Homo sapiens: one gene and its partners. The protein of the gene in region 5 interacts with the protein of the main gene of each other region in a pairwise test. Each region holds a gene or a part of one and is shown on either strand. Other genes may lie near its edges.

What was found.
Region 1: the proteins of REL (region 5) and TTC19 interact in binary tests that used the Homo sapiens proteins (3 or more experiments, as listed by UniProt).
Region 2: the proteins of REL (region 5) and LASP1 interact in binary tests that used the Homo sapiens proteins (3 or more experiments, as listed by UniProt).
Region 3: the proteins of REL (region 5) and PRDM10 interact in binary tests that used the Homo sapiens proteins (3 or more experiments, as listed by UniProt).
Region 4: the proteins of REL (region 5) and SHC3 interact in binary tests that used the Homo sapiens proteins (3 or more experiments, as listed by UniProt).
Region 6: the proteins of REL (region 5) and RAB29 interact in binary tests that used the Homo sapiens proteins (3 or more experiments, as listed by UniProt).
Region 7: the proteins of REL (region 5) and EFHC1 interact in binary tests that used the Homo sapiens proteins (3 or more experiments, as listed by UniProt).

Annotation. Positions count from the first base shown.
Region 1 is NC_000017.11:16,006,324-16,009,823, forward strand, and holds part of TTC19 (tetratricopeptide repeat protein 19, mitochondrial isoform 1 precursor), read left to right. Parts: intron 1-150; coding exon 151-245; intron 246-2,654; coding exon of another isoform or gene 2,655-2,683; exon of another isoform or gene 2,684-2,741; intron 2,742-3,500. UniProt on the Homo sapiens protein: Required for the preservation of the structural and functional integrity of mitochondrial respiratory complex III by allowing the physiological turnover of the Rieske protein UQCRFS1.
Region 2 is NC_000017.11:38,897,558-38,901,057, reverse strand, and holds part of LASP1 (LIM and SH3 domain protein 1), read right to left. Parts: intron 2,647-3,500; coding exon 2,539-2,646; intron 1-2,538. UniProt on the Homo sapiens protein: Plays an important role in the regulation of dynamic actin-based, cytoskeletal activities.
Region 3 is NC_000011.10:129,922,836-129,926,335, reverse strand, and holds part of PRDM10 (PR domain zinc finger protein 10), read left to right. Parts: intron 1-1,106; coding exon 1,107-1,454; intron 1,455-2,932; coding exon 2,933-3,088; intron 3,089-3,500.
Region 4 is NC_000009.12:89,005,271-89,007,818, forward strand, and holds the end of SHC3 (SHC-transforming protein 3), read right to left. Parts: coding exon of another isoform or gene 2,248-2,548; 3' UTR 501-2,247; downstream 1-500. Other genes in the region: uncharacterized protein LOC124902206, read left to right, coding at 2,248-2,548. UniProt on the Homo sapiens protein: Signaling adapter that couples activated growth factor receptors to signaling pathway in neurons. Involved in the signal transduction pathways of neurotrophin-activated Trk receptors in cortical neurons.
Region 5 is NC_000002.12:60,912,574-60,916,073, reverse strand, and holds part of REL (proto-oncogene c-Rel), read right to left. Parts: intron 1-3,500. UniProt on the Homo sapiens protein: Proto-oncogene that may play a role in differentiation and lymphopoiesis.
Region 6 is NC_000001.11:205,767,486-205,769,984, reverse strand, and holds the end of RAB29 (ras-related protein Rab-7L1), read left to right. Parts: 3' UTR 1-1,999; downstream 2,000-2,499. UniProt on the Homo sapiens protein: The small GTPases Rab are key regulators in vesicle trafficking. Essential for maintaining the integrity of the endosome-trans-Golgi network structure.
Region 7 is NC_000006.12:52,451,342-52,454,841, forward strand, and holds part of EFHC1 (EF-hand domain-containing protein 1), read left to right. Parts: intron 1-1,346; coding exon 1,347-1,496; exon of another isoform or gene 1,497-2,753; coding exon 2,754-2,946; intron 2,947-3,500. UniProt on the Homo sapiens protein: Microtubule inner protein (MIP) part of the dynein-decorated doublet microtubules (DMTs) in cilia axoneme, which is required for motile cilia beating.

The DNA of each region.
Region 1 (3,500 bases), on a different chromosome or scaffold from region 5:
CGCTTGAACCCCGGAGGTGGAGGTTGCTCTGAGCCGAGGTCACGCCATTGCACTCCAGCCTGGGCAACAAGAGCGAAACTCCATCTCAACAGAAGGAAGAAAAAAAAAAGAAGAAAAGGTAAATGGCTGATTATTGATTTTGCTTTACAGACAGGAATTTGCTGTTGCTGGCTATGAATTCTGCATTTCAACTCTAGAGGAAAAAATTGAAAGAGAAAAGGAATTAGCAGAAGACATTATGTCAGGTAGGAAACCCATTATCTGGGCATTGCCTTTTCTCCACAAAAGGCTTTACTTTACACTTTTGAGAAATGGAAAGAGATCTAAATTGGGAAGAGGGAAAGTTACCTATTTTGCAAAATAAGTGTCTGTCTTTAAGGTATCAGCAGAAGTTTTGGAATAAGATGTTTTATTTAAAATATTTGACTGCTGTTTTGGTGGTGGTTTTTTTTTTAACCCCCTTGGTAACATGGTCATAATTTATTTGTTAACTTTTAGTTACATATAACTTAAGGAAAATTGGGGAGCAGAAGGAGAAGGTGTTTCTCGTATCTCTTAGTTCAGCTACCAATCAAAATGCTTATTACGTTTTAGCCCTAGATATACAGCAAATTAAGAAAGAAGAGAAAAAAAGCTCATGTTTTTACAATCCATCCTCACTCATTCTGGAGGCTAGGAATAGAACTGGATGAGCAGGAAGCTCTCTAGCTCTCCACCATTTTGGGTTTCTTAATTTGGGTTGAAGTATTGAGAATTTTCAGATTTGACATTTATTCAATACCTACTCTATACCAAGAGCTACCGAGATGGTAGGGATACAGCAGTCAACTCTTCTGTACCTAGTGGTCTTCTAACTCTCTCTTGAACATAGAGTAGTCCCCCGTTATCCATGGGGAATATGTTCCAAGACCCCCAGCAGATGCCTGAAACGACTTCTAATACACTGTGTTTTTTTCTTATATATATGTACCTATGATAAAGTTTAATTTATAAGTTAGGCACAGTAAGAGATTAACAACAATAACTTTTAATAGAACAATTATAACTATATACTGTTAACAGTGTCACAGACAGGAGATTCATTCTTATTGTAGATCTTATCAACCTCAGCATACAGTTTTTTGTTTTTTGTTTTTTGTTTTCTTACTAAGTTGAGAACTTTCACCTTTTCATTAAAAGGAAGCACTTTATGACTTCTCTTTGTCATATTCAAATTGCCAGTATCACCACTCTCACACTTTGGGGCCATTATGTAAAATATGGATTGCTTGAGCACAAGTACTGCAACATTGTGGGTTGATCTGATAACTGAGACTGCTGCTAAGTGACTGAGGCCAGCTGCCGTATACAACTTGGGTACACTGGACAAAGATGATTCATGTCCTGGGCAGGATGGAGTGTGACAGTGTAAGATTTCTTCATGCCACCCAGAATGGCATGCAATTTAAAAACTTACGGATTATTTCTTGAATTTTTCATTTAATATTTTTCGGACTCTGGTTGACTGCAGATAACTGAAACCCCAGAAAATGAAACTGTGGAGTAGGAGGGATCACTGTACACCAATTTTTTTGTTTTCATCACTCCACTGAAGCTACCTTTATCAAAGTCACCAAATCCAATGGTTACTTCTCAATCCTTAACTTACTCATCAGCAGCTTTAACTTAGGGGATCACTGTCTCCTACTGAAAATACTTTCACTTGGCTTCTGGGATGCCTCACTGGTCTCTCTAGTGAGGTGAATAGACTTCCCTACCTCTTAATGTTGGCACGCCTTAGGGCTGTTTTCAGCCCTATTCTCTTTTCTCTCTGCCCCAACACCTAGGAGATATCTTTTAGTTCCATAGTTTTAAATATTAGATTTATACCTTCAGCCCCAACTTGCCCCCAAATGGCAGACTTATAATTATGATTGCCCACCCGACATCTTGACTTGAAGTCTAATGGTCATCTCATACTTAACATGTCCAAAATAGGTCTCAGTTTTGCCGCTCACAACTTGTTTCGTCACCAGTCAGCCCCAGATTTGTAAATGGCACACTACTCATTTAGTTGCTTTGGCCAAGAACCTAAGAATTGTCCATGATTTCTTCCTCATTCCTCATATCTAATCCATCAGCAAGTTATACTGGATCAGCCATCAAAATATATCCATACTGACCATGTCTCATCCCATTACCCTACTGCTTTGGTCCAGGCCATCACTGTTTCAAGACCTCAGTACCTTTGTATCACCTTTAGAATAAATTTAGAATCCCTGCATGGACCTGTAAGGCGCTTATGACCTGGGCCCACCCACCTCTTCCATGCCATCTGCTGCTCTCCCCTTGCTCGTTCCAGTCTCACCACACTGGTCTTATTCTGGCACATTCCAAGCTTAGTGCCACCTCAAGGCCTCTTTGCTTGATATTCCCCCTACCTAGACTGTTCTCTCTTACCTTTCTCTGGCCAACTCCCGTACTTCACTCAGGTCTCTGCTCAAATAGCACTTCCTCAGAGTGCTCCCTTCACTAAAACTATCATCTCTTCCCACCTTACTATTGCTCTACTCCTCTTTCCTTTACTTTTCTTCATCACACTTAAAAGTAGAGGTGTGTGTGTTGTGTGCTTGTGTTTCTCCACTAAAAGTATGTTTTTGTTTAAAAATTTTTAGTCTTTGTCTTCCATATCAAAGAAGGATAGAGACTTCATCCATTATACTCAGTGCTAAATCCTCGGTGCCTAGAACAGTGCCTGGCACATAATAGAGGCTCAATAATTACTGAATGAAAGAACAAAAGACCCAAGAAAGACCAGCAAATAAATCCAGTTTCAGTGCAGTGTGGAAGTGCTTTGAGGAAATCCACAAGAGGTGTAAAAACAAGTCTAGCTGTCAAGTAAGTCACTTCTGAACTATTTACACCTTTGCTGTCTTTCATTTATAGTGTTGACTATGGTTTCTTAGGAGTGTAAAGCTATATTTTCTGATTCAAAAAATAATACCAGTAAACACTGAAGAAAGTTTAGAAAAGCACTAAGTAAAAATCATCTGTAATCATACTATTAAGAAAGAGCTACTGTTTTATTTATTACTACGGCTTTTCGGGTTACATTTTAAGAAATAAATTTGGGATGATACTGTATATCCTACTTTGTAACCTGAGTTTTAACAATTTAGTAACATATTATGAAAACACTTTTTTTTTCCAGGCAAAGGAATTCTTGTTAGATAGAGCAAGCTAATTTCTATTATAAATATTATTTTTACATTTTACTAGTTGCACAGTATAGAAAATGTGTTACATGATTCTTCATCTTATTTTTTCTAGAAAAGGAATTCCTACCTATTCAGTTTTGCACAAAGCAAATCCATTATCAAATTTACGTGCTTTTTATTGACACAACTATCTCTATTCTAGGATAACATTACTTAATTACATAAAATTACATTACTTAATTACATAAAACCTTGCTCTAGGATAATTATTTTGTTACCTATGTTGTAGACATATATGTACTT
Region 2 (3,500 bases), on a different chromosome or scaffold from region 5:
AAGCCGCAGAGGCTGAAGAGCCGACATTCCAGTTCTGTGAACCATTCCGGGTTTTCCCCATAATCTAAGACCATCTTCCCCCTCCCCCACTTTCCAAGCCGAGAGCTCTGAAACACAGACCTAAGGGTCTTACCCTTTGCAGGGTCTGAGCCAAAGGGAAGCTCCAGGGCGTGAGGCCAGGCCCTAGCATATAAAGAGTCAACTGTGACAGGCCTCTGGAAGTTGGAGGGGAAGGAGGATTAGAGTGCCCGCCCTAGGCATCCCCTGCTAGCCAAAGGGAAGCATGCCATTTCCTCAGGCCACCAACTTCAAACTGCAGGTCAACAGTCCAGTTGCAAAACCCATTCACAGTAAGTCTGCAACCAGCATCTTTTTGGTTTTTTTTTGAGATGGAGTCTTGCTCTGTCGCCAGGCTGGAGTGCAGTGGCCCGATCTCGACTCACTGCAACCTCTGCCTCCCGAGTTCAAGCGGTTCTTCTGTCTCAGCCTCCCAAGTAGCTGGGATTACAGGCACACGCCACCACGCCCAGCTAATTTTTGTATTTTTAGTAGAGATGGGGTTTCACCATGTTGGCCAGGATGGTCTCGATCTCTTGACCTCATGATCCGCCCACCTCAGCCTCTCAAAGTGCTGGGATTACAGGCATGAGCCACCGCGCCTGGTCCTTTTTTTTTTTGGAAACAGGGTCTCACTCGGTTTCCCAGGCTGGAATGCAGTGGTGCAATTACGGCTCACTATAACCTCAAACCTCTGGGCTCAGGTGATCCTCCCACTTCAGCCTCCTGAATAGCTAGGACCACAGGCGTGTGCTATCATGCCTGGCTAGTTTTTGTATTTTTTTTTTTTTTTTTTTTTTTTTGTAGAAACAGTTTTGCTATGTTGCCCAGGCTAGTCTCAAACTCCTGGGCTCAAGCAATCCTCCCACCTCAGTCTCCCAAAGTGTTGGGAATACAGTCCTCAAAGGGGCTGTATTATGTGAGGGTGTATAGGGGCCTGCAACCAGCATCTTTAGAAAAGATCTGAATGTGGCCGGGTGCGGTGGCTCACACCTGTAATCTTAGCACTTTGGGAGGCCAAGGCGGGCACATCACCTGAGGTCAGGTGTTCAAGACCAGCCTGGCCAACATGGTGAAACCCTGTCTCTACCAAAAATACAAAAATTGGCCGGGGGTGGTGGTGTGCACCTGTAATCCCAGCTACTCCACTTGGGAGGCTAAGGCAGGAGAATCACTTGAACCCTGGAGGCGGAGCACCACTGCACTCCAGCCTGAGCAACAGAGTGAGACTCTGTCTCAAAAAAAAAAAAAAAGATCTGAACGCCCTCTAAGTAGGAAGTACTCATTCATGAAAGCTTCCATTCTGTTTTCCCTCTACATAAATGTATGCCTGTCAGATGGGTCAAGACGTACAATGTATATTTTACTGTAGGCTGAAGTCAGAGTTTGAAAGCCACCATTTTGGGCATGGCTGGTTCTGCTGTCTGTGGGCTGCCTGTGCTTCTGAAATCCACCTGACCCACCACTGCAGCCCACTCTATGCACGGCCCAGCCAAGCTCTTAAAGGAGCGCCCTGCTGAGGTGGCCAGGTGGAGGGTAGGAAGGGATGTGGAGCCCAGGGAGTGGGTGCTGAGACCACCGGAAAGCCAGGCTCCCCCGGCAATCTCTATCCCCAGTTCCTCAGCCCAGAGCAACAATGGGCAGCTCACTGATCCCTTCCTGTTCCAGACACGAAGACAGCTGCCTGCCTAAACCCTCCCTGGCAGGACCTCCTAGGCCAGGCTGGCTGGGCAGCCCCTGCAGTTCTGTGTGCGCATCCCCCATGGTTGCTGCTCACCGCAGTGCCCTGCCCCCGCATGCCTAAAGCCACACAGGCTGCTTGCCTGTGGCTCTGCCAAGCAGGAAACTGAGGCCTGTTCTCTGGCCACAGGTGCCATGGAGGGCACACGATGCTGGGGACAGTTGATCCCCTGCCCACTCTCCATGCCCACCCCTGCCACAGCCAGATGCCACTGACCATCAGGGAGGCGGGGGGTGTGAGCCAGGGGGTGCAGGGCTGGCGGGTGAAGCTGGCTGGGGTTTTTACACAGGAAGGAAGAGCAGGCTGATGTGGGGGAGGAGGCCAAGGAAGGGCGGAAATGACTGCAATGTCAGCACCCAGGCGCAGACCAGGGGAGGCCAGGTGCTCCCCGCCCCCCAGTTTTGACCTTTGTGCTAAGATGAGACATGCAGTCTTCACCGATACCCACGATATCCAGAAAAAAGAACAACAGTCAGAGAGAGTGGGGGCTGATTTAGCACACAGGCCCCCACAGAATACAGTCCCTTCAAGAAGAAAATGCTATGCGTGCTGGTGGTCTGGGGGTACACAGAGAAGAGGCATCTGGGAACCCCAAGCTCTTCCCCAGGCCCACCCTGGAGGGCAGGGGTAGTGGAGGCACTGGCCTCATTCACATCTGCCAGGCTTGCGTCTGCCAGGCTGGCAGGAAGGGGACCAAACAGAGGGCAGCAGGGATGCCGCAGGGCAGGGCAAGAGCTCACGTTACTGATCTGGTCCTGGGTCTTCTTGATTCTCTGGAGCTCGGGCGTGTCTGCCACTACGCTGAAACCTTTGCCCTTGTTCTTCTCAAACTCCTCCTTGTAGCGCACCTGCAGGAGGGGAGGAAGAGGGATTGGAGTCAGGCCAGGAGCCGAAAGGGCCTCGGCTTGGGGCCCCTCTGAGGCAGCAACCAGTCAGGAGACAGGGACAGGGAGTCAGCAGAAAGACCCTGATCAGAAGTCCCCAACTCAAAGCAGAGGCCTCAGCCAAAAGGTGTTAGACTCGTAATAATAAGCCACTACCAAGTCTTTGGTGCACAGTGAATGGCAGGCACAGAGTCCAGGGCCTTACATGAACCATCTCATTTAGATCCCACCATACATATAGCCACGCAATTAACAGCTCCAATTTACGGATCAGGAAACGGAGCCACAGAAAGGCAAAGTCCCCTGCCCAAGGTCACAGAGCTTAGCAGTCAATGTCCGGCACTACCAGAGTGCAAACCCTCATCTGCCTGACTCTTGACCCTTCACTCCCTGCCCATCCTGTCTGGAAGCTTATAGGAAAAAGGTTCTTTCCAGGGCTCCCAGGGTGGCCCCAGCCCTCATGTTAGCCAGGATGTGGCCCTGCCCACTACGCCTGGGGGAGCTTTTCAGCAACCAGCTGAGTGAGGGCTGTGCCAAAGGACAGAGTTGGTGCCCAGAAAGGAGGGTGGTGAGACAGCCCCAGGGAAGGCTCCATCAGTGCGCCTTTGACAGGCCCCGCGGATTCTGGGAGCCTGCCGGGATGGCTTCAGAGGCCACCGCCATAGGAGGGGAGGAAAGCAGCGGGGGTCAGACAGCATCTCAGCAGGTCTCCAAGCTCCAGGGAAGAACCCTTCCACCCCACCACAGTACTAGAGGGACTCAAGTCAGACATCAGAAAGGACTTCCCTGGCACGAAAGGAATTGAAATATGAGGAACA
Region 3 (3,500 bases), on a different chromosome or scaffold from region 5:
TAAGCATAACTGAAAGATTGATTCTGCATTCTCTGTGTGAGGTGATTTTGTCGATCTGCTGTCAGTAGAGCATGAGTAGATTTTCCAGTAGTGGCGATGGGTTTGCACTGAGTACCCGTACTCTCCCACTTGGATGCCCTATAACAATTGCATGAATTTACAAGATGGCCAATCAGCATTACAAGTGCAATCTGTGCCTGAAAACAAAGAGCAGAATTGCCTGGTCGAGGCAGGAACAGTGTGATGAGCTTAACGTTGTTAGCATGGCATTCTAACCAGTAGAACTAACTAGCTATTCTGGAACCTTACCTTCTGTTTTCTAAGTAGAAAGTGATGAAATGCATATATTCCATTTACGACATGTGCTCATGTCCCATTCACATAAATCTGAATCCTTTCAAGAAATTCTCGTGGCATAAAGTTTACCCTTTAAAGTGGTTTTTAGAACATTCTGAAGCTGTGCAATCTTCACCACTCTCTAATTCCAGCACACTTTCATCACCCCCAAAAGAAACCTGGTATCCATTACCCCCAAAAGAAACCTGGTATCCATTTCCTTCTCCATCCTGCCGCTGGCAAGGACTACCCTTCAGTTCTTTTTATTGTTTTTTTGTTTGTTTGTTTGTTTGTTTTGTTTTTGCTAAATGTTTTAATCAAGCTTCAAATTCTTTTTCTCATGGATTTCAACAAGTAACATTTGACTGACTTGCTCCAGCCTGATTCCTGCATGTGTGACTTAACCTAAGTCTTTTCCTCCAAATCTTCCATTTTTATCCTGTTCCACTGTGGGATTTGTTTTATTATACAAGTCTTCTATTGGGAACACTTTTTTTGTTACTTAAACCCTTTCAAAAGAAAACCCACATACATAGATGTAAAACAAAACACAAAAAAATTTCATCTCTTTAAGATGAGCTTCTTTGAGGATGGCTTCATTTTCAGTGTCTTCACCAGAAAAATCTCCTTTCAACTGTGTGTGTCCTAGAGTTGAACTTCTATGGGAAGTCTGTGATTGCAGAGATCATCCTCTCTTTCTCTGTAAAAGTGTGATCCAGTTGCACTCTTAATTTCATCACTAAATGATCACATTTGTGTATGTCTTTCAGAATGCAGCTCTTCAGCATCTGTTTATTCGGAAGTCCTTCCGGCCTTTTAAATGCTTGCAGTGTGGGAAGGCCTTCCGGGAAAAGGACAAACTGGACCAGCACTTACGCTTCCATGGGCGGGAGGGGAACTGCCCACTGACCTGTGATCTCTGTAACAAGGGCTTCATCAGCAGCACATCCTTGGAGAGCCACATGAAGCTCCACTCAGACCAGAAGACTTACTCTTGCATTTTTTGCCCAGAATCCTTTGACCGCCTTGATTTGTTGAAAGATCATGTGGCCATTCATATCAATGATGGCTACTTCACCTGCCCAACTTGTAAGAAACGGTTCCCAGATTTTATCCAGGTGAGTGTCTACTACTGAGATTCCTGTCTGCTTCCTTCTTTTGGTAAAAGAAACTTCGATTTTTGGAAAACCGAGACTGCCTAGCACCTGCATTTCCATCCCTTCTTTGAAACAACTTTACAATTGAGAACAATATTTCTTCAATCAAACTACTTTTATACACAAGATTATTATGACCCTTAATTGTCCAGATCAGACATTGACATTGAAGTGTTTAAGTTACAAGTAATAAACACCCAGATCTATTATAATTTTTAAAAAGTCTTTCATAATCCATGTCAATGTCTATTGCTTATAAAATATACCGAGCCTGTAGAAGACATACTCCCGTTTCTGAGGGGCTGGGAACATCTCCCTACTACTACTGTGGTTTCCTGCTTGCTTTAACCAAGGCCATACATTTTGGAAGGAAACAAAGAGAAAGTTGGTATATAATATACTTTTGTATCAGGAACCGACTGCCTCCTCCCCTGTAGTGTATTCTTTGTTGGAGCAAAATGGGTGAAGATAAATTTCAGAATACTCATGATTTCATTTGGACTTTAAGTGATAAGATTTTCCTGTGCTAGTCAGTGAATAACGAAACATTTTGTAAAAATACACTTTTTCAATTACCAAAGGAAAAGAAGACTAGGGATTTAATTTTAGTTCTGCTAGTGTTGAGAGTCTTGGAAATTTTCTCACTTCACACAAACTAGTAGAAAGATTGCTTTAAGGCATAATTTAATGGCAAAAGAAACTCCAAAAATAATGAAGCAAACTATCTTATAGGAATAGTTTGGTAAGACTCACTACTTAGCTTCCATCCTCAGCTCTTTCTCATTGGATATGTGTGGCTAAGAGAGTTCAGAAGCCCTATTCCTTTATTTATCTAAAAGTAAGGGAAGTAAGTCCCAGTTGAGAAGTGACGCCAGCGTCATATTGCTCTCACAAACCGGTAATGTCTTCTGTATCCACTCATTCATGTCTTTAATTCTTCAGAACTTAATTTTATAAGAAGATGTAAAAGGATCAAAAGGGGCTAAATTGCTTCTGTGCAGATTAAAGACGGAGAAAAGTAAGGAAGAATTGGTTTTTGTCTTCCTATAGATCCTTTTTAGCAAGATTTCATTTAAACCCAAAGGAACTTTTGCTTTTTATCTTTAAAAAATGGGCTTCAAGTGATCAGGGCTTTGACCAAGCAAGCACTCTCTCTCTCTCTCTCTCTCTCTCTCTCTCTCTCTCTCTCTCTCTCTCTCACGTTTCAAGTCATCGGGGAGGTTCGGATTTCTAAGGCTTTCTGGCTACTTGTTTTATTTCTTTGTGACAGGGACAGTATGTGTTATTGAGGCCAATTATCACATCTGATTGGATTCCTCGGCGGGGTTGATGAAAACCCATGGTAATGCGTTTGGCTCCCTCTAGCGTTGACAAGCTGCCTTTGGTCATTTCATTTGGTGCCTGCGTCCCCTGAATTTTCCTGTGGTTCTTATCACCAGGTGAAAAAACACGTGCGCAGCTTCCACTCAGAAAAGATCTACCAGTGCACAGAGTGTGACAAGGCCTTCTGTCGCCCCGATAAACTGCGACTCCACATGCTCCGGCATTCGGACCGCAAAGACTTCCTGTGTTCCACCTGTGGGAAGCAATTTAAGGTATGACACCAAGGCACAGCCCAAGGTGGTTCTCGTGGCCACTGGAATTATAGCAAGCTGAGGGTAAATGCCTGTTCATTTCATCAGTTTATCACCCACCTCTGATGAACTGGACCTGAGATACTCTTTGGGCCTTGTGTTTGACTTAGTTATAAAATTAAGGGGGAAAACTTACTCATTTCCTCAAAATAGTTAATTCAAATCCCCAAACAAGTAGAGTAAAAATGCATCATCTCCTAAAAGAATCCAAATGTATAATGACAAGTATAACTAAATCGCTATTGAGATTTCCTAACAGACCAAAACCTTTACTTAACATTCAGATCAGGAGGTTTTTGTTGAGCACTGATGAAGTATAAGAGCCCGTAATTGAGCCTTGCAGCCAGCAGGACGCTCATCTAATTCAGGTGGG
Region 4 (2,548 bases), on a different chromosome or scaffold from region 5:
TTTGATAGGGAGAAATTTCTAAGACCCATGGTAATAAAAGTGCAGCTCAAAGACATGGGACCTCTTGTCCTGCCCCATTTGCTGTTGTTTATGCAGCAGGAGAGAATAGGTCAGAACCAACCTTTGCACACTAGCTTTCTCCCACACAAACGGTCCATTTTAGCCTCTCTGTCCCACTTGCTATGTAAAGAGGAGGCCAGTGCTCGGCATAACTGTTCTGGTAGCGATGCTTGTTACAACTCATGATGAAATGTCCCAACGCAAGTGAGGACGCAGCTGCCCGCCCCAGAGCTAGAAGGTAAGGTGAGTTCTCTAGGAGTACATCTGCCCGGATGCATTTTCATTCCGCAGCCTTGATGAATGGGACGAGGCTTTGTTGTGACTGTTTTTTAAGCAGTCCCCCAGGGAATCACTGAAAATACCTACTTCTTAGAGAAAAGTTTCAAGCTCCCCTCCTCTCTTTTGTGAGGCAATACAAAATCCATCATCCAAATGAAAGATACTTTTCACAACAGCCTTTATTGCCTGCAGACTTACATGTATAGTCCTTTAAACAATTAACTGTTTAGAAAATGGTTGTTTCTCTCAACCCTTGAGCCAGTTATTCCACGCTGGTAAGACCCTTTCACAGAAATGTAACAAGGTGCATTTTATAGAAAACATCTAATTAAATCACCAGTTTCATGCTTTTAAGTTGTATCTACAAGTGCAAAACTGCAACACCCAAATGTTTTTAGTATCTAAGTCAGATATCCAAAAGTTAGCTCCATAATCAGAAATGCGCACACCACTGTTCTGATAATAAAGGCACATTTTCCAATAACCAATTATAACAAGAAGTGCAGCATTACCTAAATTGGGTGTGTCATCTTCCCCTCCTGGGTCACAGGATGACACCTGGGGATGCGATGCCGTGCCTGCACTTGGCGATCCCAGGAGCACAGAAATGCACCAGACAGATCATGAAGGGCTAATGCTTGGAAACCACACCATTTCCTGACAGAGTGAAGGAATCCCTGTGGATTTATCAAAAGGGAGGAGGGAATTTAAGCTAATTCTCTTCACCTGCTGTATTCTCAAATCTCCAAAACACCAGATAACTTAGGTTTTTTCATTTGTCATAGAACAAAGATTAGAGAACTTGAAATTCGTTTTGCATTTCCACTCCTCAGGGATGTCAAAAAAGCCAGTTCTGTTCCAGCACAAAGTAGAAAGTGGTGAATTGGCAATACGCCAAGACATAGACTGTTACAGTAATTCTTTTTGTTTCACAAAAGTTAATGGAAACAAAACAACTTTCAGATAATATTCATTTGTCAGTATGTATAATTTGCCATCCAAATGCTTTTTAAAAAGTTATTATCTTATTATTACACATTAAATTTACATGGAGTTGTCTCCTAATCCTGGGATTTTAACACCAAATGTTTAATTCTGAATACAAAGAAACATTCACATACTTAATTTTACAATATTCTGGAACAAGTTATATTCAAAAGTCAAATGAACAGAGAACATTCCACTTGCAACCAACACATAGCTGTTAACAAAATTAACCCCATTAATATTTAAAGACGGATTTATCCATTAATGCCTGTTTTAATTGTCACTTGATTTTGATGGTTAGAAACTTTGGTTATGGTAAAAATGATCACATGAGTGGGAATTCATTACCTCAAAGCTCAGGACCACAGCTCCCCATGTGCATGTTTTTCTGTCTGCAGTATTTCAAGGTGAGACAACAAAATAGACACCTAAAATTGTATGAGATTTTATTCCTGGTGCTTTTTCAGCGAGAACCATTTTTCCAGACCTAGGGAAGGAGCCTGTGTGTTTTTGGCCTGAAGGATTCATCAATTCAGAGCATCTGTGACAGCCAGGAGGAGGAAAGAAGGGAGGCTGGGATCACCTCCCGCCCCTTCTAGCATCTCTACTGAGAGTGACAACTCCAGGCTGTCCACCCCCATCCTGAGCCTTCCACACTCTTCTCCGTGCCACTAACACTCAGTATCTGACGCCTGCAGTGCGAAGCCTCCAGAGTCCCCAGACTGACCTGGGCACTCCACCCTTGCTGGTTCTACTTTACTTGGACACACGGGTACCTTAAGGCTTGTCACACTCCAACACCTTTGTGTGTGTGTGTCTTTATTTCTTTCTAGGTTATAAACTCAGGCAGAGGCCTCATACATTCACTTCTCTATCCCACCATCCCAGTACAGGGCCAGCCACATATTAACTAATGCACAAATGAGGCCAAGAAACTGGCTAGAAATCCCAAGAAACTGTGCCAAGTATATGCAGCTGCACCTGGGAATACACGAAAGCATGACATCACGAGCACAGCCTCCTCCACCACACCTTCCCTTTCTCCTCCTTCCCTGCTGGCCTCAGACAGCTATGCATGGCTGCATGAAGGAAGATCTAAATCTGGACTTGTTTTATCCTCCCCTTCCCTTCTTCTCACCTTTATTCTGCCTCCACCTTCTTCTTTCTTTGTCTTCCCCCACTGGCTTCTCTGTCATTTCCCACAGTGGGTTCCCCCAATCCC
Region 5 (3,500 bases):
AAATGTGAACTCAAGTCATTAAATTTAGAGCCTATGCTTTTAAAAATTGAAATCTATTAGAAAATTGTACATGTGTTGTACATAAAAATGACATACACAAGAGTATCTACTAAATGTGGATCAACATTTTAAGGATGAAATACCAAGAAACAAAAAAATGTTAAGATAGCTAGTTTCCATAAGAAATTTTACGTGCAAACTTAAAAAATGTTTTAATTAAAAATTTTACAGTTCTATAAAACTAGAAAAGCTCATGATAGAATATAGTATAATAGTTTGTTAAATTAGTATTTGAACCAGAAATCCAGTTCCAAAAGAAAATATTGCCTTTTCAAATGCCATAAGCTATAGCAATAAGTCATATTTTTAAAAAGCAAGACATGCACATTATTTACATAACAATTTTACTTTGCAAAGTATTAAATTTTGAAACACTAAATTTAGAAACATAGTTAAGCCCAAATTCCTTATTTTACAGGCAATAACTAATAAAACTGATAATGTATTTTGTACTGTTTTTATTTAATGACATTGAGAGTCTACTTAGCTATCACAACATTTATAAGTATCCCAGTATTAGCATTCTTATGCTTAATCTTTGAAACAGTGCATAAAAACACATCTGTACTCTGTACAACTGAAAGGTCAAAATGTTATGATACCAACACTTGTGTTACAGCAGCATACTCTACTGGCACTATTGTGTAGGCAATATGAGAGCTACCTCTTCAAAATCCATTTTTACAGCATTATAAATGTAGCATTCAAGATATTAGTGTCTCTCAATTGCAAAGATGAGTAATCAATATGCAAAAAAGATAAATTTGTAGCTAGATGTTCCTGGTAAGTTTAAAAACAAACCTATGTGAACTCTGTGAATGGATAAACAAAGTGTGGTATAGACCTACAATGGAATAAACTCAGCAATAAAAGAGAACAAACTGGCCAGGCGTGGTGGCTCACACCTGTAATCCCAGCACTTTGGGAGGCCGAGGTGGGTGGATCATGAGGTTGGGAGATCGAGACCATCCTGGCTAACACGGTGAAACCCCGCCTCTACTAAAAATACAAAAAATTAGCCAGGCGTGGTGGCGGGCGCCTATAATCCCAGCTACTTGGGAGGCTGAGGCAGGAGAATGGTGAACCCGAGAGGCAGAGCTTGCAGTGAGCCGAAATTGTGCCACTGCACTCCAGCCTGGGCGACAGAGCAAGACTCCATCTCAAAAAAAAAAAAAAAACAAAAAAACAAGCTATGGGTATACACTCCCAAATGAATGTATCTCAAAACCATGTTGAGCAAAAGAAACCAGATACAAAAGTATACTGTATGCTTCCATTTACATGCAGTTTTAGAAAAGATTAATCTCCAGTGACAGAAGGCAGATTAGTAATTGCCTGAGGCAGAGGCAGGGTAGGGAACTGAGCGAGAAGGGGACCAGGGAAATTTTAGGGGGTGATGGAAATGTTCCATAGCTTGATTGTGGTTATGTAGCAGGACATATTCGGGTAGATTTTATTGTATCTCAATAAAAGTTTATTTTAAATATTTTTAAATGGCACATAAAAGAAAAATAAACAAACTGGTCAATAAGCCAAAGTTCAAAAACATTTAGTCACATAATAGTTCTACTACAGGGAAGAAATTCTACTTACTTCTCAAAAAAAATCACTGTTTATGAGATTTTGCTTTGAATCTTCTCAATGTGTGGAAATACAATTACTACTGCATCAGAATTACTTTCATCTCTGCACAACATGGTTAAAAACTACTGACAGGCAAGAATCATGACAGATACCCGTTTTTACCCAATGCAAGATTCAGTGTAAGGCTGAAACCCCAGCTCAAAGCTTCTTTTCTATAAAGCCTAACTTCATCCTCTGCAATGGAGGGAATATTTCTCCTCTCTAAATCAGTGCAAGACTTGACCTATACCTTTCTTATGCCCTTAAAAGTTTTAAAATCTTACATGATAATCATTTATGTATGCCTCTTCTATCCTATTAGACAAAGTTTCAAATGAAGTCAGAAGGGATGTCTGATGTATCTCCACTAGGTGTTGAACCTAGTAGTGATATTTATTATACATTTTCTCAATTAACATAAATGACTGAAGAATTACTTAAAGTCCTATTGAACAACCAAACATTTAGATACTTTTACAAGTTACTGAAGAAAGCATAAAGTAAACGTTAATAAAAAGAAGTTCTACTTTGGTAATGATAGATGATAATCTGTAAACTGGACCAATTCAACCATGAGAATAAAGTGGACAAAATATGAAACAAAATTTCTCTAATGACATTAGAGAGCTAACAAGGTCATGAAAAACCATGCGACCAAGATATGAGAGAAGAAAACCCACAGTTCAGAATGAGAGGCCACTTTTATCTGAATATAGCCTGACAATTTTCTAAGAGATGGTTAAGAAGATTGAGATGAACTCTCAATAAACTATAGGGAAAAAATAAAGGAGTTGAGAGTTTGCCAAGGATGTGGGATCTGATAAATACCCAAGGCTTTGGGGGATTTGAGGTCTGAAAGAGCTATACCCTAGGAGTAAGGGTGAACTGGAAACATATCAGATTTCAGGGATGAAAGCCCAACTTCAAATAACCTAAATCATTCACTGATTTTAGGTGACCTGGGATTGCTAGTGTACCCGGCCACTAGCCAGAAGAAAATTTTCTGCAGGGAGATAATATTGTAGGCCTAAAATCTTTACTCTTTTTCACAGAAAATGACTGGTATTTTATCTTAAATAACCACACATATGAGGAGGCAAAATAAAAAATTTTTTTTTAAAAGAAAGCAACAGGCAATAAAAACATACCACAAAGGATCCAAATAATGAAGTTTTCAGACATATAATTTAAAGTAACTATACTTAATATATTCAAGGAATTAAGATTGAGAGTTTACTGGAGAACTTGAAACTGAAAAAAAGGAATCAAATTCTAGAACTGAAAAATATAATAAATTGAAATTAAGAATATAATCAAATTTATCAAAAGTTTTATAGAAAACACTTTGTGTCTTGTCTTTTTATACCTCAAGGATTAAAATGTTTACCAACATAGTCTACCAAAAGTTTTTAAAATGTTGATTCACTTTTAAAGCCTTTAATCCATCTTCAGCTGATATTTGTATATGATGTGAGGTAGGGAATCCGACTTAATTAAATAACTATTTTTTTTTCAAGCTTCATTTCTCAAACATTTCCTCCTTTCCTCTTGATATGACATGCCACCTCTGTCATACACTAAAGTCGCATATTTCCTTAGCTCTGTTTCTGGGCTCTCAATTCTTTTTTCAATAATTATACATTTTTATTTTATCTTATAAAAATTGGGTGAATATGTAGATTTAAATTGACAAAACTGTGTATTGAACAGTTTTGTCTTTTATAGCTTAGAAGAAAGATTTTGGGCAAAAATGAAATCTCTCTTTTGGAAATGATTTATTTCTATTTTATAATACTTCTGAGCACTGTTGCAACTTC
Region 6 (2,499 bases), on a different chromosome or scaffold from region 5:
ATTCATTGATATCATGACTTCCAATTGAGAGGAAAATGAGATCAAATGTCATTTCCCAAATTTCTTGTAGGCCGTTGTTTCAGATTCTTTCTGTCTTGGAATGTAAACATCTGATTCTGGAATGCAGAAGGAGGGGGTCTGGGCATCTGTGGATTTTTGGCTACTAGAAGTGTCCCAGAAGTCACTGTATTTTTGAAACTTCTAACGTCATAATTAAGTTTCTCTTGTCTTGGCATCAAGAATAGTCAAGTTTTTTGGCCGGGCATGGTGGCTCATGCCTGTAATCCCAGCACTTGGGGAGGCCAAGGCAGGCGGATCACATGAGGCCAGGAATTCGAGACCAACCTGGTCAGCATGGCAAAACCCCGTCTCTACTAAAAGTACAAAAATTAGCCAGGCGTGATGGCACGTGTCTGTAATCCCAGCTACTCTGGAGACTGAGGTGGGAGAATCGCTTGAGACTGGGAGGCAGAGGTTGCAGTGAACCGAGATCATGCCACCGCACTTCAGCCTGGGTGACAGAGAAGGACTCCGTCTCAAAAAAAAAAGAAAAAAGAATAGTCATTTTTAAACTACCTATCTCATGCAATGAAAGCATTTTCTTCCACAAAGAGCTTAATCCTCATGATAGGATTGCCTAGTGTCTCCCATTTGCAGGTTTCTGGGTTGATGTCTTAATGCATAATACTGCAAGTGACATCAGCTGGCTGTGATGCTTCGAAATAGGTCTGCTCCTCACAGCTTTGGGAATCTGAATGGAAGAAGAAAAGAGAGAAGTTAACAACCTCCACTGGGGCAACTTTGTGAACACGTAGGCACTTAGTCATAGGAAACATATTATGTGCAGGTCCTAGCCTGGGGGAGGAAAGTAGATAGACAGAAAATCATTAGGTAATTTAAGTACTAAATTGGGCAGGGCTTTTTAGTATCAAATCACTACTAGACCATTTAATTTGTTAAATTATCTCTAGGATGGTGATTTATAACCTACCCAAAGTTATCGATATTCTTACTAAACTCTGAGGCCTGAAGTTCTGTGATAGACCTTAAATAAGTGTCCTAAGTCAGTGGTTCCCAAATCTGGCTGGTCGGGAATACCTGGGAAGTTTGTTAAAATTTTTTAAAAATGTTTTAAGATTTTTGGGTCCTGAGCCAGCCGTGGTGGCTCACACCTGTAATCCCAGCACTTTGGGAGGCTGAGGCAGGTGGATCGCCTGAGGTCAGGAGTTCAAGATCAACCTGGCCAACATACTGAAACCCCGTCTCTACTAAAAATAAGAAAAATTAGCTGGGCGTGGTGGCGGGCACCTGTAATCCCAGCTACTTGGGAGACTGAGGCAGGAGAATCGCTTGAACCTGGGAGTTAGAGGTTGCAGTGAGCTGAGATCACACCATTGCGCTTCAGCCTGGGCAACAAGAGTGAAACTCCATCTCCAAAAAAAAAAAACAAAAAGAAAAAGATTTTTGGGTCCCGACCTCAAACCTACTGAATCAGAATTTCTAGGGATGAAGCCTAGGAATGTGTTGTTGTTTTCAGAGCTTCCCTGGTGATTGTGATAAGCCTGGTTTGGAAACCATTGCTGGAGAACTTTGTAAAGATACAGAGACCCAGACCTTTTGTATTTACATTTAAATACAAATACAAATCCTGGGTTTCTATATATTCTGTTAGCTTTTCAGGTGATTCTGCTACACAGACGTTGAAAACCACTGCCCTAAGAAAGAGATCAGAGGCCACATATCAGAGAGAAAAGGGACCAAACCTTCGGTGGTTTGTTGTGTGTCGTTTTAATGCCAATTATTTTAACTTGCACAGTCTTCTGAAACCTTGTATTAATAGTTCTCTTTTGTATTACCATTTTCAGGTAGGGTTTTGATCACTATGATTCTGAAGATAATAGTGAAATAGTGAATTTCATTGATATGAAGAGATAATTGATTTTCATTCATTGGTTTGAACACCTGCAAAATCACAAATAAATGAGAACTAAGTCTTGTATTCATGGTGGTTATTGGCCTTTAATGTGAGTTTGTCAAAGTGCTGTTTTATACTGATAGCTCAAGAGGATTGCGGAAATGGAGACTTTATTTTTTAAATACCTTTTTCTAAATTTTCAATTCAAGGGGTACGTGTGCAAGTTTGTTACATGGATATATTGTGTGATGCTAAAGCTTGGGTTTCTGCTTAGCCTGTCTCCCAAGTAGTGAACATAGCACCCAGTCGGCACTTTTTCAACGCTTACTCCCTCTCTCCCCACTTTTGGGAGTCTCCAGTGTCTGTTGTTCCCATCTTTATGTGTGTGCCCAATGTTTACCTCCCACTTACAAGTGAGAAATGTGGTTAAATACCTTCTTTTAAAATGAAGGTAAATATTATTCTGTTTACCTGTTAACTTACTAATACCAATTGCTTAGATCCATCTGCCTAGTACCAATTCAGTACTTGATGGAACATGCCAAATACTACTTGGAAACGTGACCTTTTTGAAAAACTGAATG
Region 7 (3,500 bases), on a different chromosome or scaffold from region 5:
CTGTCAGCATTTGCTTATCAGAAAAGGATCTTATTTCTCCTTTGCTAAGAAGCTTAGTTTGGCTAGATATGAAATTCTTGGTTGAAGATTTTTCTTCTTTAAGAATGTTGAATATAGGCCCCCAATCTCTTCTGGCTTATAGGGTTTCAGCTGAGAAGTCCAGTGTTAGCCTGATGGGGTTCCCTTTGTACGTGACCTGCCCTTTCTCTGTAGCTGCTTTTAACATTCTTTCTTTCATTTTGACCTTGGAAAATCTGATGATTATGTGGCTTGGGGATGATCTCCTTGCATAGAATCTTGCAGGGATTCTTTGTATTTCCTTAATTTGATTGTTGGCCTCTCTAGCGAGGTTGAGGAGGTTTTTGTGGACAATATCCTGAAATATGTTTTCCAAGTTGTTTGCTTTCTCACTGTCCCTTTCAGGAATGTCTGGTGAAATTTGAGCACTTGGTTTGTCTTTCCTATTTTGCTAACACGTTTTCTGGTCTAATATAACCAGTGGGTATGCTTTCTTTTTTTTCTTTTTTGGTGAGGGGAAGGGACTTAATCATATACAGTATTTGTTTTAAGTGAATTAGAAAATTGGGAATATGATTTCAGCCTAACTTGGCCATTGTGCATCTTGCCTCCAGACCTAATAGGAATTACATATTGTTTGAAACCATGGTTAGGTTCCAGATATATGAAAGTAAGCAATCCTAAGACTTACTCTGTTACAGGCACCTAACTAAATTTGATTGATTTAAATTATTTGAAAACAGTTATTTTGCCATTGTGCCTCCCAACTAGCTTAGCAAATACCTAGCAATATAACAATATAAAATACTTCAGGTAACTCTCAATTATTACCTGCATTATGGAGTTGGCTCAGTTGGAGACTTAATACAGCTTACATGCGCTCAAGCAGCAAACTAATGTTTAACTTAAGCAATGGCATAGAAATCATTATTACACTTTTTCTTTCTTTTTTTCTTTATTTGAGGCGGGGTCTTGCTGTGACGCAGGCTGGAGTGCAGTGTCATGATCATGGCTCACTGCAGCCTTGACCTCCTGAGCTCAAGCAGTCTACTCACTTCAGCCTCCTGAGTAGCCTGGACTGCAGGCAAATGCCATCAAACCAGTCTAACTTTTAAATGTTTTTGTAGAAACAGGGTCTCACTATGTTGCTCAGGCTGATTGTGAACTCCTGCGTTTCAGGAGTCCTCCTACCTCAGCCTCCCAAAGTGCTGAGATTGTAGGCCTGAGCCACAGTGCCTGGCCCATACACTTATTTTTATATAATCAGTTTATAACTTACTCTGAAAAGCTCCAAGAAAGATGATCATTGTTAACTTTCAATTATTTAGGTATTTTTAGAAAGCCAAGGAATTGAGTTAAATCCACCAGAGAAGATGGCTCTTGATCCTTACACTGAACTCCGAAAACAGCCTCTTCGTAAGTATGTCACCCCATCAGACTTTGATCAACTCAAGCAATTTCTCACCTTTGACAAACAGGTAAGTGACATAGGAACCACAATAGGCTTACTTATTTCCAAATGTGACCTACATTTATTGGCAAAAGGTTTGGGTAGCTGTATTGGTAACTATTTTGAAACATTACAGCTATAATTGAACTGTTTGGACACAGTACTGTCTTTCTGCTTTCATCAAGGGTTACAGGTACAGGAATGCCTACATTTCATATGGAGATCCAAAGAAGATCGTGGAGTTGCGGAGTTGTTTTGTGAACCTCACCAAACATTTAAATCTCAAAGCAATTCCTGAGCTACATCTGCTTCCCACCTTACGTTTCCAATTGACAATTTCTTTCCCTTAAAATGAGCTAATTTCATAGACTCCTTTGTGAAACCATAAATCGATTATTAGGAAATTTCACAAATATGCATACATGTAGGTTGTAATGTTAAAATGTTTAATTTCACAGAAGCCCCACTACAGATGCTTCCTTGTTAAATGTTATATTAATATTGGAGTCCAGAATGTTCTGAGCATTTTCCAACTCTGTTCCAACCTTCCTAATCCTCTCCCTTGTGAGCTGATGTGTATAAGCAGATTTAAATCCTTCCCTTTCTGTACTAAAGGGAGAAAGAAAAGGAAGAGATCACCCTCAGTGCTTCTTTGCTGCTCCTTTTCTTTAGACATTTAACCCCTTTTAGTTCAGAAAATGTAAACTAGCACTAGCATGGTCTTTTAAGGATTTTGTTCATATCAGTCATATATCTGTTATTATTTTGTATTTAAAGATTGTGTTTATTCCCACGATTTGAAGAAGCCTAGCCAAAAAAAAAAAAAAAAAGATTGTGTTTATATTATTGCTAGAAGATATGTGTTGATGGGACCAAAAAAAGACTGGTTAATAAATAAAAATTTTTTCTACACTAATTATATATAAACCATATTCACATGTACCTTTATTAATATATATATACCACTATGTAAAGAACTTCATTGCTCTTTTAATTTAGCTTCTCTTTCACTGACTAATATTTTGGATCAAAGTGAGCTCTTCTTTTTTGGCACAAACTTATAATCCTATTATTTAATTCTTTCCAGCTGCTGACATATAGTACATAATTTCAGATGTTTTAGTATGTTTGATGAATATTTCTTTTTTTTTCAATTTACCCCATCTGAAATTACTTCATAGTCTTTCCAGCTAGTCTTTCCATCGTTGATACATAATTGCCAAAGTAGCCAAGTTGAACTCCCTACTTTTAGGATTCTTGAGTCACTACTTTGGATTCTTCAAAGGTCCTTCGATTCTATGCAATCTGGGATGATACAGACAGCATGTATGGTGAATGTCGGACCTACATCATTCATTACTATCTTATGGATGATACGGTGGAAATTCGAGAGGTCCACGAACGGAATGATGGGAGAGATCCTTTCCCACTCCTAATGAACCGCCAGCGTGTGCCCAAAGTTTTGGTGGAAAATGCAAGTATGTTTGATTCAGTTTATTCTCTGTTACTTGGGATGTTTTTAGGTTCTTAAAGGAGTTACTTAATCAGTATGCAAAATTCGTTTATACTTGGAAGCCTCTAGCTATTTTTGCTTAGATGCTCAGAAAATGGCTTCCCACAGCTTTCCTCCTTTACTTGCCCCTCGGTCCAGGCGTGCCCCCAAGACAGTCTGGTACCCAGGTCAAGGAAACAAAACCAAAACAACAGTGGGAGATTTATTTAAAGTGCAGCAGAGCAAGGTTTCTGAACTGAAACAATTTAATATTAGATTTTTAATGCATTTTTCAAACAGGCTTGTTTTCATTCAAGGATATGAATGAAAGCTTAGCTTTTCTTTATATGCTTTCCTGACTTTGCTTCTCACTTCAACTACTTCCTAAACAGGAAGTTTCTATGTGGTTTAACTTGAGATTGGAAAAGGCATGTCTGTGACTCATAGAGGTGAGGTCCATTGTGTCAAACCCAGCTCATTCTTTACTGGTTTAAAATTACCTAGCATGGGCTGGGCATGATGGCTCACTCCTGTAATCCC